4 linked regions of the Homo sapiens genome follow. The protein of the gene in region 2 interacts with the protein of the main gene of each other region in a biochemical or structural test. Each region holds a gene or a part of one and is shown on either strand. Other genes may lie near its edges.

What was found.
Region 1: the proteins of LIMS1 (region 2) and FERMT3 form a complex in vitro, tested with the Homo sapiens proteins (one study listed by BioGRID).
Region 3: the proteins of LIMS1 (region 2) and DAPK1 form a complex in vitro, tested with the Homo sapiens proteins (one large-scale study listed by BioGRID and IntAct).
Region 4: the proteins of LIMS1 (region 2) and FERMT2 form a complex in vitro, tested with the Homo sapiens proteins (one study listed by BioGRID).

Annotation. Positions count from the first base shown.
Region 1 is NC_000011.10:64,216,721-64,220,220, forward strand, and holds part of FERMT3 (fermitin family homolog 3 short isoform), read left to right. Parts: intron 1-2,530; coding exon 2,531-2,638; intron 2,639-2,803; coding exon 2,804-2,938; intron 2,939-3,019; coding exon 3,020-3,069; intron 3,070-3,158; coding exon of another isoform or gene 3,159-3,170; coding exon 3,171-3,295; intron 3,296-3,499; coding exon 3,500-3,500. UniProt on the Homo sapiens protein: Plays a central role in cell adhesion in hematopoietic cells. Acts by activating the integrin beta-1-3 (ITGB1, ITGB2 and ITGB3). Required for integrin-mediated platelet adhesion and leukocyte adhesion to endothelial cells.
Region 2 is NC_000002.12:108,540,970-108,544,469, reverse strand, and holds part of LIMS1 (LIM and senescent cell antigen-like-containing domain protein 1), read right to left. Parts: intron 1-3,500. UniProt on the Homo sapiens protein: Within the IPP (ILK-PINCH-PARVIN) complex, binds to F-actin, promoting F-actin bundling, a process required to generate force for actin cytoskeleton reorganization and subsequent dynamic cell adhesion events such as cell spreading and migration.
Region 3 is NC_000009.12:87,504,367-87,507,866, reverse strand, and holds part of DAPK1 (death-associated protein kinase 1), read right to left. Parts: intron 1-3,500. UniProt on the Homo sapiens protein: Calcium/calmodulin-dependent serine/threonine kinase involved in multiple cellular signaling pathways that trigger cell survival, apoptosis, and autophagy.
Region 4 is NC_000014.9:52,857,051-52,860,550, reverse strand, and holds the end of FERMT2 (fermitin family homolog 2), read left to right. Parts: intron 1-85; coding exon 86-210; intron 211-836; coding exon 837-978; coding exon of another isoform or gene 979-990; exon of another isoform or gene 991-1,245; intron 1,246-2,000; coding exon 2,001-2,174; 3' UTR 2,175-3,278; downstream 3,279-3,500. UniProt on the Homo sapiens protein: Scaffolding protein that enhances integrin activation mediated by TLN1 and/or TLN2, but activates integrins only weakly by itself. Binds to membranes enriched in phosphoinositides.

The DNA of each region.
Region 1 (3,500 bases), on a different chromosome or scaffold from region 2:
GGGAGGCGGAGCTTGCAGTGAGCCGAGATCACGCCACTGCACTCCAGCCTGGGTGACAGAGCGAGACTCCATCTCAAAAAAAAAAAAAAAAAAAAAAGGCGGGTGCCACCATGCCCAGCTAATTTTTGTACTCTACAAGGATTTTGATTCACGTTTGAAGTTCTCTTCTGCGCCCTACCTGGCCTTTATTTCCTCCAAGCTGTTTTATTCTTGTTGTCTTGGTCTCTATGGTTCACTCTTGAAGCTTTCCTTAAATGTGGGTAGTCCATGCCTGTCCATTCATATTTAAAAGTGAAGCTCTAAGAAACCAATTGGAGACCCTGAGTGTGTGAGTAGGGCTTGGCATCTTGGTGGCCCCCTGGAGGCGATGGGGCCGGGCTGCCACTCTTTGTCGGGCATTTCTCTGGTGGCTCAGCCTCTCAGTGGCAACCCCACTGATCTTTCAACTGGAGATAGAAGGCTTCCTGCCAATGTCTTGGGTGACAAGTGGGAAAGGGTGTGGGTGTGTCACTCATCTGAATGCCAGCTTTCTTTAAATTTGTGTTTTTGCCGGGCACGGTGGCTCACGCCTGTAATCCCAGCACTTTGGGAGGCCAAGGCAGGTGGATCACCTGAGGTCAGGAATTTGAGACCAGCCTGATCAACATGGAGAAAGCCTGTATCTACTAAAAATACAAAAGTAGCTGGGCGTGGTGGTGCATGCCTGTAATCCCAGCTACTCAGGAGGCTGAGGCAGGAGAATCGCTTGAACCCGGGAGGCGGAGGTTGCGGTGAGCCAAGATCGTGCCATTGTACTCCAGCCTGGGCAACAAGAGCAAAACTCCATCTTAAAAAAAAAAAATTGTCTGTTTTCACCCTAGTGCAACCCCCACCCCGTCCAGCTGTGTCTGGGGTACCAAATGCAGGGGTGCATCTGGCTCAGCATCTCCAGAGAGTGAGTCCCAGCTTCTGCCAGGTGTCTCCTTGCCATCACTTGGCTGCATGGAGCTGGGGAGGGACCTGCTTTTTTTCTTGGACTTTATCCAGAGTCCTCTCTTCAGCTCACCCTCGCATCTCATCCAGAGGATCCCCATCAGAGCCTGCCAGGGGTCCGCCATGCAAACTGGATGCCTCTGTTGAGATCTCTGTTCTTTTTGCTGATTGCTTTCCGCCTATTTTCAAGTCTCATTGGTGGATTTACCAGACAGGAGAGGGACAAGGCGTGAGGCCCTAGCGCTCTCTGCATAACCCAGTTCCCATCTACAGTTTGCTCTCCATCTTCCAAATTATTTCCTTTTTCCTTTTTTTTTTTTTTTTTTTTTGTGACGGAGTCTCGCTCTGTCGCCCAGGCTGGAGTGCAGTGGCACGATCTCGGCTCACTGCAAGCTCCGCCTCCCGGGTTCACGCCGTTCTCCTGCCTCAGCGTCCTGAGTAGCTGGGATTACAGGCGCCCGCCACCACGCCTGGCTAATTTTTTTGTATTATTAGTAGAGACAGGGTTTCACTGTGTTAGCCAGGATGGTCTTGATCTCCTGACCTCGTGATCCACCGACCTCGGCCTCCCAAAGTGCTGGGATTACAGGCGTGAGCCACTGCGCCTGGCCTTCTTTTTCTTTCTTTTGGAGACAAGGTCTCACTCTATCCCCCAAGCTGGAGTGCAATGGTGCAATTACAGCTCACTGCACCCTCAACCTCATGGGTTCAGGTGATTCTCCCACCTCAGCATCCTGAGTACCTGGGACTACAGGCACGCACCACCTCATGTGGCTAATTTTTTGTATTTTTAGTAGAGATAGGGTTTCACCATGTTGCCCAAGCTGGTCTGAAACTCCTGGGCTCAAGCTATCTGCCTGCCTTGGCCTCCCAAAGTGCTGGGATTACAGGCGCAAGCCACCGCCCCGGCCTGTCCTTTGTCCTTTTGGGTTTATCTTCCTAAACCTTTGCTATCAATTTTGGGTGAGTTTCAGCGGGATTGTTGGTCTTCTGTGGGTAACTGGGATCCCCTCTTGGAGTCTCTGCCTTCCCAGTTCCTTTTCTCTGGAATCCTCTTCCTTCACGCTTCCCTTGAGTGGCCCACTGTCATCCTTCCTATCTCTACTCAGCTTGTCACCTCCTCAGGGAAGCCTTCCCTGACTGCTTCCCCATGTTCCATTCTGTCATCTCCATTGAACTTGGGGGGGCCTTAGACTGAGGGCTCATGTGAGCTTCCCTGTGGAAACTGTTTCCTTGATAGTGTTTATTGCAGCCTTGGATTATTTGACTTATTGATTGGTTTACTCGGTCTCTCCTGCACCCAGGGCAGCATGCCAGCACACAGTAAACATCAGCACAACCAAGCCAAGGTTTAGACGTGCAGGCCTGGGCAGCAGGGGGCTAGCAGGCTATTAAGGATGGGGTTGAGGTCTGTGGCCCATGTCTGGCCACTGAATGAATCTGCCTCAGCAAGGAGGGCAGGGCAGAGGGCCAAGGCTGGCAGGGGCTCAGTGCAGGGCGTCCAGGGCAGCTGGCATCTGACCAGCCCAGCCTCCAGCCTCCTCTCCCCCCGCTCCAGACAGACCCCGTGCGGCTGACACAGCTGTATGAGCAGGCCCGGTGGGACCTGCTGCTGGAGGAGATTGACTGCACCGAGGAGGAGATGATGGTGTTTGCCGCCCTGCAGGTACCAGGCGGGCCTGGGGGCACCAGGGCAGGTGGGAGGTGAGCCAGTCCCAGGGCAGGAAGGGCCTTCCTGAGTGGGGGCTACCTCCAGGGAAGCCCGGCCTGGGGGTACTGCTAGGGGACCAGGCTGCTGGACTCAGCCCTCCCTGGCTTCATGACCACCTAGTACCACATCAACAAGCTGTCCCAGAGCGGGGAGGTGGGGGAGCCGGCTGGCACAGACCCAGGGCTGGACGACCTGGATGTGGCCCTGAGCAACCTGGAGGTGAAGCTGGAGGGGTCGGCGCCCACAGATGTGCTGGTGAGGAGGGGCTCAGGGCAGGGGCTGGGCAGGGAGAACTGTGAGGTACCGGGTGCCCCTCTGACTCTGGTCCTCCCATAGGACAGCCTCACCACCATCCCAGAGCTCAAGGACCATCTCCGAATCTTTCGGTGAGTTGGGGGCCAGAGTAGGCAGCCCTGCTGGAGGGGTTGGTCTGCATATGGAGGGAGGGGGTGAGGCGGCCTTTCACAAACCCCAGCATCCCACGAAGGCCCCGGAAGCTGACCCTGAAGGGCTACCGCCAACACTGGGTGGTGTTCAAGGAGACCACACTGTCCTACTACAAGAGCCAGGACGAGGCCCCTGGGGACCCCATTCAGCAGCTCAACCTCAAGGGTAAGTGCACAGGGCCAGGGGCTGGGTGGGGGGATCCCCACTTGTGGGCTAGGCAGGTGAATGCTCTCACCGGCCCTGTTTCCTCCTGGAGACCGGGGAAGATGCCCTCTGTCCTGAGGTGACGGTGTGGGCTAGGATGCACTCCAGGACCTCAGGCGGCTCTTCCCCTCCCGACCTCCTAGACCACCCCTTCTCTCCCTCCAGG
Region 2 (3,500 bases):
CACACAGAGACATATTATTCTCTGTATTTTTGTATATGTTTGAAATCCTCCATAATAAAAAATTAAAAAGCATAGATTTCATGACATACATCCCTCAAGAAGTATGGGATGAGGCTGAGCAATCAGCATTTTTAGCATGAACCCCATGCCATTAGAAGTCTGCAGCCCATGTTTTGAGAGCACTGTTCTCCCTGATTCTTGAATTTTCCCTACAACATTCCAAATAAGCCAGGCCTCTGGTTGAACCCTACGATGACCAATACACCTCTACCTGCTAAGAATCCAATAATATTTGACTGGTCCTAATGTCTTCAATAAGTAACAACTAATCTATAATAACTACTAACAAATTACCACTTCCTCCTTTAAATTTCTTTTTACTTTTTTTGAGAGAGACAGGGAAAGAGAGAAGAGAGAAAAGAGAGAGGGAGAGAAAGACAGAGAAAGAAAGAGTCTTGCTGTGTTGCCCAGGCTGGAGTGCAGTGGCAAGACTCAACCTCCCAGGCTCAAGTGATCCTCCCACCTCAGCCTCCTGAGTAGCTGGGACTCTTCCTGGACCAAACTGAGGGTTGGGCTGCTATTTCTCGTGGCCCAATAACGAGATGCAGATGAACAGGGGAGGAAGAGAGTTTTTATTTCTGCAACCAGTTACAGGGAGAAGGCCTGGAAATTATCACCAGACCAACTCAAAATTGCAGTTTTCCAGAGCTTATATACCTTCTAAGCTATATGTCTACAGGTAAGTGTGCATTCACCTGAAGACGTAAGTGATTAACTTCTTTTAATCTATAACTAAGGTCTGAGTGCTGGAGACCTTCTTCTGGATCCTCAGTAGATTTACTTCATCTAAATGGGTCCAGGTGCTGAGGTGATTACCCTTGTCTCCTACTAAATCACAGAGGTTTGGGGAGTTTTTTCAGACCCACAATAAAATTTGTTTAATCCTAAAAGGGTCCTGTTAAGAATTCTTTTGTTATTTTCTCATGCTTTAAGGCCCAGGAAAGGCCTAGGCAAAACTCTTGGTAGGTTTCTGTTACACTCCAGCCTTTGATAAGGGCACTGACTTGTTTAGCTTTTACTATTTCACTTAACCAGTCAGTCAGTATTGAAACAGTTGTTATGGAGGCCTGCATTAGTGAGACCTAGCCTGCCACAGGACTACGGGCACGTGCCACCATGCCCAGCTAATTTTAAAATTTTTTGTAGAGATGAGGTACCACTATGTTGCCCAGGCTCATCTTGAACTCCTGGGCTCAAGCGATCCTCTCACCTCAGCCTCCCAAAGTGCTGAGATTACAGGTGTGAGCCACCATGCCCAGTGAAATTTCTAAAAGACTTTTTTAAACAGTCTCTTATGGGACTTGTACACACAAAGCTACAATATTAGACAATGTGTCCTTCACTCTATTACAGCTGTATACTCCATGCCCTATAGCATAGTACAGTGTATATAATGGACACAAATTGTATTGAAAGATGTGTTCCAAAATTTGTAAATATCACTTTCACATATGCAAGCACAGCCAAGAGTTCAAATAAAAATAATGAAGTTTGTGTGTTGCACACAAATACAGACACATTAAATTTGGGTAGAGAACTGAATCTTACCCAATGCATTCTCCGGGAGGTCAAGAAAAGAAAGCCTAATAGGTGTTGAAGCAGCCAAGGAAGTCATCTTCAAGACAGAGGAGTTTAAGCTGGGACTTGAGTTGTAAGACTTGGGAACTCCTACCCCCTTAAAAAAGGAAAGGCTACTCCTAGCAGAGTAACAAAAATCAAGTTCAGAAAGAAGGACTGTGGTATGGTTGGCAATAAGATGATATAAGCGTAAGGGTAGGAGGGAGTAAAACTGGATAGGTTGTCTGGACATGCCAAGAAAAAGCCTTGAGACTTGGAAAAACAATTAGCGAGCTGTGACCTCTTCTTGACCAGTGCCATGAAGTGAGGAGACACAGGGCTCTACAGGGCACTTCGGTATGAATCCCAGCTGTCACTAATTGTATGACTTGGTGAGTTCTTAACCTCTTGAGCTTGGTTTCCTTATCTGTAAAATAGATATAAAGATCCTACTTCGTGGTGTGGCTGTGATGGTAAGATTATATAAAACAATATCCTTAAGGTATTTGTGTGGAAGTAGGTAATTAAGAGAAGGTGGTTATGACTAACCGAGTTTCCAAAACAGTGGCCTAGGAGGAAACTAAACAAGGATGCCTAAATATCATCTGAATTTCTCCTAAATGTTTCATGATGTTGGGTCTCTGCCAGCAGTCTGTAATACACTGTAGAGTCAAGCTAAACCAAAGAAAATGATCCTGTTTTACTCAAAGTTTTGTGAATTTATTCAAACAACGTCAAAGACACTAAACAGAGCTAGCCCTGAACTTTTCGATTCACTAACAACAAATAAAAGGAGAAATAAAGCCTACTGTGCAGCTTGTTTTTCTTTGGATATTTAACAAATTTGATTAAGACATTCCTTTACTTCCAGAGATTACACTTTGGCAGAAAAGCTTAGACATATATACAAAAAACTATAAAACAAAACAGAAATTGGTAATTACCAAAAAAGAATTCAAAATGCTTTGGGAAAACAGAAAAAGCTCTGAATCCCTAATTCCCTACTACACAGCGGGGGCTAAATTAATGCTCCAGGAATTCGTTATTTTATGAGAGAAGCGGCAATTTTGTTCCAGCTGCCAAGAAAACACAAAAGATGATGATTTTCCAGGCCCAGAGAAGGGCATGAACAGCACTGAGGCAGGAAATCATCATTTTCAGAAAAAGGCAGTGGGTTAGAGAGACAAAGGCTAAGGAAACAGTGTGTGACAAGGCTATGAAGATGGGTTGGGCCAGATCACAAACAGCCTTAAATTCCAGGCGCTGGAGTTTGGACCTACTTGACAGGCAATAAGCAGCTTCTCAATATTTTGAAAACATGTGACCAAAGTAGTTCTTTAGAAAAATCTGAAACCAACATGGATGACAGATCAGTCAGGTGCACCTGCACTGTACCTGCACAGAAAAACAAATCCTGTTGAATCTACTGCACTGAGAAGGAGAAACAGCTAGCTGTGGCAAAAGCTGCAACTGCCTACCCAATGTCCATTCTCCCTCCCTTCCTCACTGTATTAACAAGGCAAATTTTAAAATGGACAGCAATGTGCCCAGCTTTAAAAGTAAGCAAACAAAAACAAAACAACAGCTACATTTACCAATGAGAAATAAACATATCTGTTTAAGTAGTTGGTAACATTTGTCACTCAGCTGATGCATTGGTAAGGAAGCCCGTCAATAGGAAGGGATCTCTCTGGGGAGGAAAAAGTTGCAAGCACCAGCACATGTGGCTAGGAATACCAGGTCTTCAACAACACTTCTGAAGTGTTCTTCAAAAGGAATCACTTGAAAGAGACTGACATCCAGGACACCTGTAATAGAACAATTCTGGGCCAATATCCATAATTCATTCAGACATTTCCAAATGTACTATGTTAATGGGCTCA
Region 3 (3,500 bases), on a different chromosome or scaffold from region 2:
AAGAATAATCAGGCAGTTTTGACAGAAAAATAAAATGTGTCCCAAAAGAAGTCCGTACCTCGAGCCAAATTTCCCAGCCAAAACCCATCAGGCTTATGAATATAAGTGCCATCAATATAAACTTTTCACACTTCAGAGATCGGCAGTTTACAAGCATTCATTTGCTCAAACATTATGTTCTTCGTCCAAAGTTGTATGTGTTTATAAAGGGAAAAAAAAAATCAACAACATTCTCCCAACCTCCTTCCCTCCCCTCCCCACCACTCTGGCATCTCTAATTATATGTTAGGTTACTGAATAAAATTTTTCAAGCTCACAACTGAAACATCGAAAGGTAGTACATAAGGTAAAAGCCCCGTGAACACCAGATGCGGTGGCTCATGCCTGTAATCCCAACACTTTGGGAGGCTGAGGCGAGCAGATCACCTGAGGTCAGGAGTTCAAGACCAGCCAGACTAACATGGAGAAATCCTCTAAAAATACAAAATTAGCCAGGCGTGGTGGTGCATGCCTGTAATCCCAGCTACTTGGGAGGCTGAGGCAGGAGAATCGCTTGAACCCAGGAGGCGGAGGTTGCAGTGAGCCGAGATAGCGCCATTGCATTCCAGCCAGGGCAACAAGAGCGAAATTCCGTCTCAAAAAAAAGGCCCCATGATCACTTCTCAGAAGTAAGCAACATTATACTTCAATGACCACAGTGTGATCCATATGCCACACCAGCTGTCAATGTCACCTAAAGACCAAAGTGACAAACCCGCGTCACTATTGGACCACGCTTGTCAGGTATCTCCAGAGATTAGTTACTATCACATGATTGTTTTGTTTTGTTTTGGATTGGGACAGAAGATAAAACACAACTATTTTAGGTTTTAGATTTTTTATTTGTAAAAACCCACCCAGCACATTAACTCTAGAGCTGGGATACAACTGTACTTACCTAAGAAAGATTTAATAGTTAGAGAAAGTTAGTTTAAATCCATTTTAGTTAGATGATGTGGAAAATCGGAGTGTCAACTTCTTTTTTCTTCCACCTTCTTCTAACTGCACCTTTAAAAAAATTCGTTTATAATAGAATGTACCCAAAGTCATACACTGAATTTATTATAATTGTACTGTCATATAACCTCTTTCAAGGCCGAGAAAGGATGCATTCCATTTGTATAATTTACCCCAACAAACCAGAACAAAACAATTAAATATTATCTTCCACATAAAGTCTCAAACAATCACACACCAACTCTAAGCTAGCCAGACTAGTTGTTGCGTAAGGAAATGAGAAACTGTTGGTCAGTGGCAGGTAGGTGCACGGGTCAGAGACAAGACTCTTAGACATTACATAACTCAAAAGTTAAATAACAATGAAAGTGTTTTTGGAGTTTTCTAAAAAGGTAAACCATTAACTTGGGACTTGAATAAAACTACGCCACATGTTGACATCATTCCAAACTGCAAGGCTGAAGCCATTTGGAAAAGGAAAGAAGGTCCCAGTGTGTCGTTAAGGCCTGCGAAAGTTCTGAGCTCAAAGGGCAGACCCTGTTGCCTTTGGCTGGGCTTCAAATGAAAACCTTCCATGAAGGGTCTACTATTTATCCCTAACCATTTTCTCCATGCAGATGCTGAAATAAATTGGCGCCAAATGGCTGCCTACTTCACCTCTCTTAAATATCAACTTCATCTGGCTTTCAAAGATGGAAAACTGCCAAATCCTAAATAGCACAGATAATGAAATAGGCCTGGCCCTGGGTTCTGGGTCCATGTCTTGCCACCTTTTAATCAGCTGCCTGGAGAAAGCCACTTGACCTGTCTAAACACAGGTGGATAAAATGTGAAGGGAGGCAATGCTGGTCACTCAGCCTTCTTCCAGGTCAAAGTCCCGGCCAGGCACAGCGAGAGGCTGACGCTTATAATCCCAGCACTTTGGGAGGCCGAGACGGGCGGATCACTTGAGGTCAGGAGTTCAAGACCAGCCTAGCCAACATGGCGAAACCCCACCTCTACTAAAAATAAAAAAATTAGCCAGGTATGGTGATGCATGCCTATAATTCCAGCTATTTGGAGGCTGAGACAGAGAATCACTTGAACTGGGGAGGCAGAGGTTGCAGTGAGCCAAGATCGCCCCACTGCACTCTAGCCTGGGCAACAGAGCAAGACTTCGTCTCCAAAAATGCAAAAGGCCAGGCACAGTGATTCATGCCTGTAATCCCAGCACTTCGGGAGGCCGAGGAGGGTGACTCACGAGGTCAGGAGTTCAAGACCAGCCTGGCCAAGATGGTGAAACCCCGTCTCTACTAAAAATACAAAAAATAAGCCAGGCACGGTGGCAGGCGCCTGTAATCCCAGCTACTTGGGAGGCTGAGGCAGGAGAATCACTTGAACCCAGAGGGCGGAGGTTGCAGTGAGCCGAGATCACGCCACTACACTCTAGCCTGGGCAACAGAGTGAGACTCCGTCTCAAAAAAACAAAACAAAATCAAACAAACAAAAAGACACAAACAAACAAAGTCCCTGAGCTCTCTGGGGTACTCTTCCCCAATGGAAACCACTCCCCTCTTGTCAGAAGAGTGGCTTCCTTTGTCTCATAATCAGAAATAAATTTCTACTAAAATAATATTCACTTAATTTATACAAAATGTTAGGTACTCATGGCAGTTGGCTAGAATGAAGGATGAAAGTTCCTAACACATTTCCCTGCTGAGTCAGGCAATGTGACCTTGACCATGCCACTCCCAGATATCAGATATCCAGCAGCTCAGCCCCTCACCCCTAATCATCTGGAAAGAAGTGGTCTGGATTACAACTCTGCTAGGAGGGAAGAGAACAAGGTGGAAGAGCCAATGTTGCCTCTCCTGATATAACACCTGTATACAACTACAGTCAGCCCTCTGGATCTGTGGGTTCTGCATCCATGGATTCAACCAACCTTGTACCAAAAATATTCAGGAAAAAACTGCATCTGTACTGAACATATACAGACTTTTTTTTCTGGTTATTATTCCCTAAACATTATAATGCTACTATTTAGTTAGCATTTACATTGTACTAAGTATTGTAAGTAATCTAGAGATGATTTAAGATATATGGGAAGATTACATCAGTTATATGCAAATACTATGCCATTTTATATAAGGGACTTCAGCATTTGTGGATTCTGGTGTCCCCAGAGGTCCTGGAACTAATCCGCCATGGATACCGAGGGATGAGTGCACTGGAATTTATCTGGACATCCATCTCTGTAGGTTTCTTATGAGTTTTTCATGGCTTTGCAGAGGCATATACCAATGATATGGGGCCTTCAGTTTCCTCATTGGCCGGGGAGACACAAGCTGAGGGTAAAAGAGCATGGGGGACCAAGAAGTGAGCTTCCATGTTCCCTGGCTTCCCGACCAATAAGCACCTCCACCTACTCTGTTCCTGGCCCCCTTGAACCTAAATTTGATGCCTGCCCTAGTAATCCAGCAACACACTCCCAGTGCCAGCAAGCAAGCATTCAACCAAACTGC
Region 4 (3,500 bases), on a different chromosome or scaffold from region 2:
GTAATTCAATCTTTTGATCTTTTGTCTCAGTTCTCCCATGAGAGAATAATGTTCAATGGTAAAGGTGATGTTTACTCATGTTTAGATAACAGCGAGAATCTTGGAGGCCCATCAGAATGTAGCTCAGATGAGTCTAATTGAAGCCAAGATGAGATTTATTCAAGCTTGGCAGTCACTACCTGAATTTGGCATCACTCACTTCATTGCAAGGTCAGTGGTTCTAAGCATCTATGTGTAAACCTTAATCTGCATTTTTGCTTAATCTACCTCATGTAATTAGATATTAAACATCTAAAGCATACCTATGTAGACCCATTAACTCATATTACAATAGAATTCAAAGACTGTTAGAATGTATTTTGTAAGCTTTTAATTTCTACATTAAAAATTCAAGATAATTGTGTTTGTTTTACTACTAAGAGAATAGCACTCTTGGCCAGGCACGGTGGCTCACGCCTGTAATCGCAGCACTGTGGGAGGCCGAGGTGGGTGGATCACGAGGTCAGGAGATAGAGACCATCCTGGCTAACACGGTGAAACCCTGTCTCTACTAAAAATACAAAAAATTAGTGGGGCATGGTGGTGGGCGCCTGTAGTCCCAGCTACTCGGGAGGCTGAGGCAGGAGAATGGCGTGAACCCAGGAGGCGGAGCTTGCAGTGAGCTGAGATCGCGCCACTGCACTCCAGCCTGGGCAACAGAGCAAGACTCCGTCTCAAAAAAAAAAAAAAAGAATAGTACTCTTTTAGGGTTAGAGAGAACACTTATCTTGAAGAAAAGCAGTCCAACATGTTCCCCCACAACATGTTTTTAACCGTTCTTTTCTTAAATGTTATAGGTTCCAAGGGGGCAAAAAAGAAGAACTTATTGGAATTGCATACAACAGACTGATTCGGATGGATGCCAGCACTGGAGATGCAATTAAAACATGGCGTTTCAGCAACATGAAACAGTGGAATGTCAACTGGGAAATCAAAATGGTAAACTCATAACAATGTTACTTGAATATAGTCCTTCTCTGATACAAATTAGTACATTAAGAATAAAAAGGCCTATAAATTCTGATGATTATTTGTACCACCACCTCTTAAAGTACAGACAGACCATGGTTGACTATTCATTTCTCACTTAAATTTGCCTATTTCATAATTAGCCCAGTTACTAAAATTCTAAGTGCATAATTTGCTTAGAATGTTGCCTTTTTTGTCTTTCTGTAATGGATAAAGCCGATCTACTCTGAAATAGCAGCTACTGTTTGTTGAATGCCTACCCTGTGCCAGACATGATACTTAGAGGCTTACATTAGTACCCTGTCTCTAAACCTCATCACAGCCTTTTAAGGCAGTTGGACAAATGAAGACACTGCAATAGAGAGACCTGAGGGCCATCATTGTCTATGACCACGCACAAAGTAACTACAGAATCATTTCAAACTCAGATGCTTTAGGCTTAAAAACCTGGCACATTTACCACTGTACATCATGTTGCCCCCAGTCTTGGAGTATACGAGTATCATTTAAAATGAACCATCTTTTACTAATAAGTCATTTGGTTTAGCATCATATTGGATTTATTGTATCAATTCCTATTACTTCAAAGAATCTTATATTTCTGAAATACTCAAACGTGATACCTAAAATTTAAGTATCTGAAGCGAACGTTAAAACACAGGAAGTAGGCTTTCCTGCACGACTTGAAGAGAGGCATTCTCATTAATTGAATCAATCACCAGAGACCATTTGAGAACTGAACGACCTAAAACCCTTGCATTCCTAGTCTTCCTTTTCAGAACATGAAAACTTAAAGTGTAGGGGAAGGGCAATAAACTTAGCTTCTTCTTTGGGACTTAAAGGCATTATTCGTTTAGGTTTTAGACAGACTGATCATTTGAGGATCAACAAGTGTTTTGTGATATGACAGACTTTAAGTAGCACAGTAGTTTTGTGTGGACCCAGCCACCTAGCATTTGGGACAGCACTGATGGCTCTTGTCTTTGTTCCAGGTCACCGTAGAGTTTGCAGATGAAGTACGATTGTCCTTCATTTGTACTGAAGTAGATTGCAAAGTGGTTCATGAATTCATTGGTGGCTACATATTTCTCTCAACACGTGCAAAAGACCAAAACGAGAGTTTAGATGAAGAGATGTTCTACAAACTTACCAGTGGTTGGGTGTGAATAGGAATACTGTTTAATGAAACTCCACGGCCATAACAATATTTAACTTTAAAAGCTGTTTGTTATATGCTGCTTAATAAAGTAAGCTTGAAATTTATCATTTTATCATGAAAACTTCTTTGCCTTACCAGACCAGTTAATATGTGCACTAAACAAGCACGACTATTAATCTATCATGTTATGATATAATAAACTTGAATTTGTCACACATTCCTTAGGGCCATGAATTGAAAACTGAAATAGTGGGCAAATCAGGAACAAACCATCACTGATTTACTGATTTAAGCTAGCCAAACTGTAAGAAACAAGCCATCTATTTTAAAGCTATCCAGGGCTTAACCTATATGAACTCTATTTATCATGTCTAATGCATGTGATTTAATGTATGTTTAATTTGATATCATGTTTTAAAATATCCTACTTCTGGTAGCCATTTAATTCCTCCCCCTACCCCCAAATAAATCAGGCATGCAGGAGGCCTGATATTTAGTAATGTCATTGTGTTTGACCTTGAAGGAAAATGCTATTAGTCCGTCGTGCTTGATTTGTTTTTGTCCTTGAATAAGCATGTTATGTATATTGTCTCGTGTTTTTATTTTTACACCATATTGTATTACACTTTTAGTATTCACCAGCATAATCACTGTCTGCCTAAAATATGCAACTCTTTGCATTACAATATGAAGTAAAGTTCTATGAAGTATGCATTTTGTGTAACTAATGTAAAAACACAAATTTTATAAAATTGTACAGTTTTTTAAAAACTACTCACAACTAGCAGATGGCTTAAATGTAGCAATCTCTGCGTTAATTAAATGCCTTTAAGAGATATAATTAACGTGCAGTTTTAATATCTACTAAATTAAGAATGACTTCATTATGATCATGATTTGCCACAATGTCCTTAACTCTAATGCCTGGACTGGCCATGTTCTAGTCTGTTGCGCTGTTACAATCTGTATTGGTGCTAGTCAGAAAATTCCTAGCTCACATAGCCCAAAAGGGTGCGAGGGAGAGGTGGATTACCAGTATTGTTCAATAATCCATGGTTCAAAGACTGTATAAATGCATTTTATTTTAAATAAAAGCAAAACTTTTATTTAATATTTATTTTTGTACTTGTTTTTAATGTTTACATAGTATTAATTTAGTAGAAATGAACTTCTGCCTTTTGGAATTGCTTTGCCTGCATGTTATTTTGTGAGAACAACTGGTTAGTATTCCACAGCGTTGCCAGATAGAGATACTTTATCTCAAAGATAGTCTTTCACCTCAATTGAAAAGCCCTCATTTTCTTAATACTTAAAAATGAATGTGTAATATCTA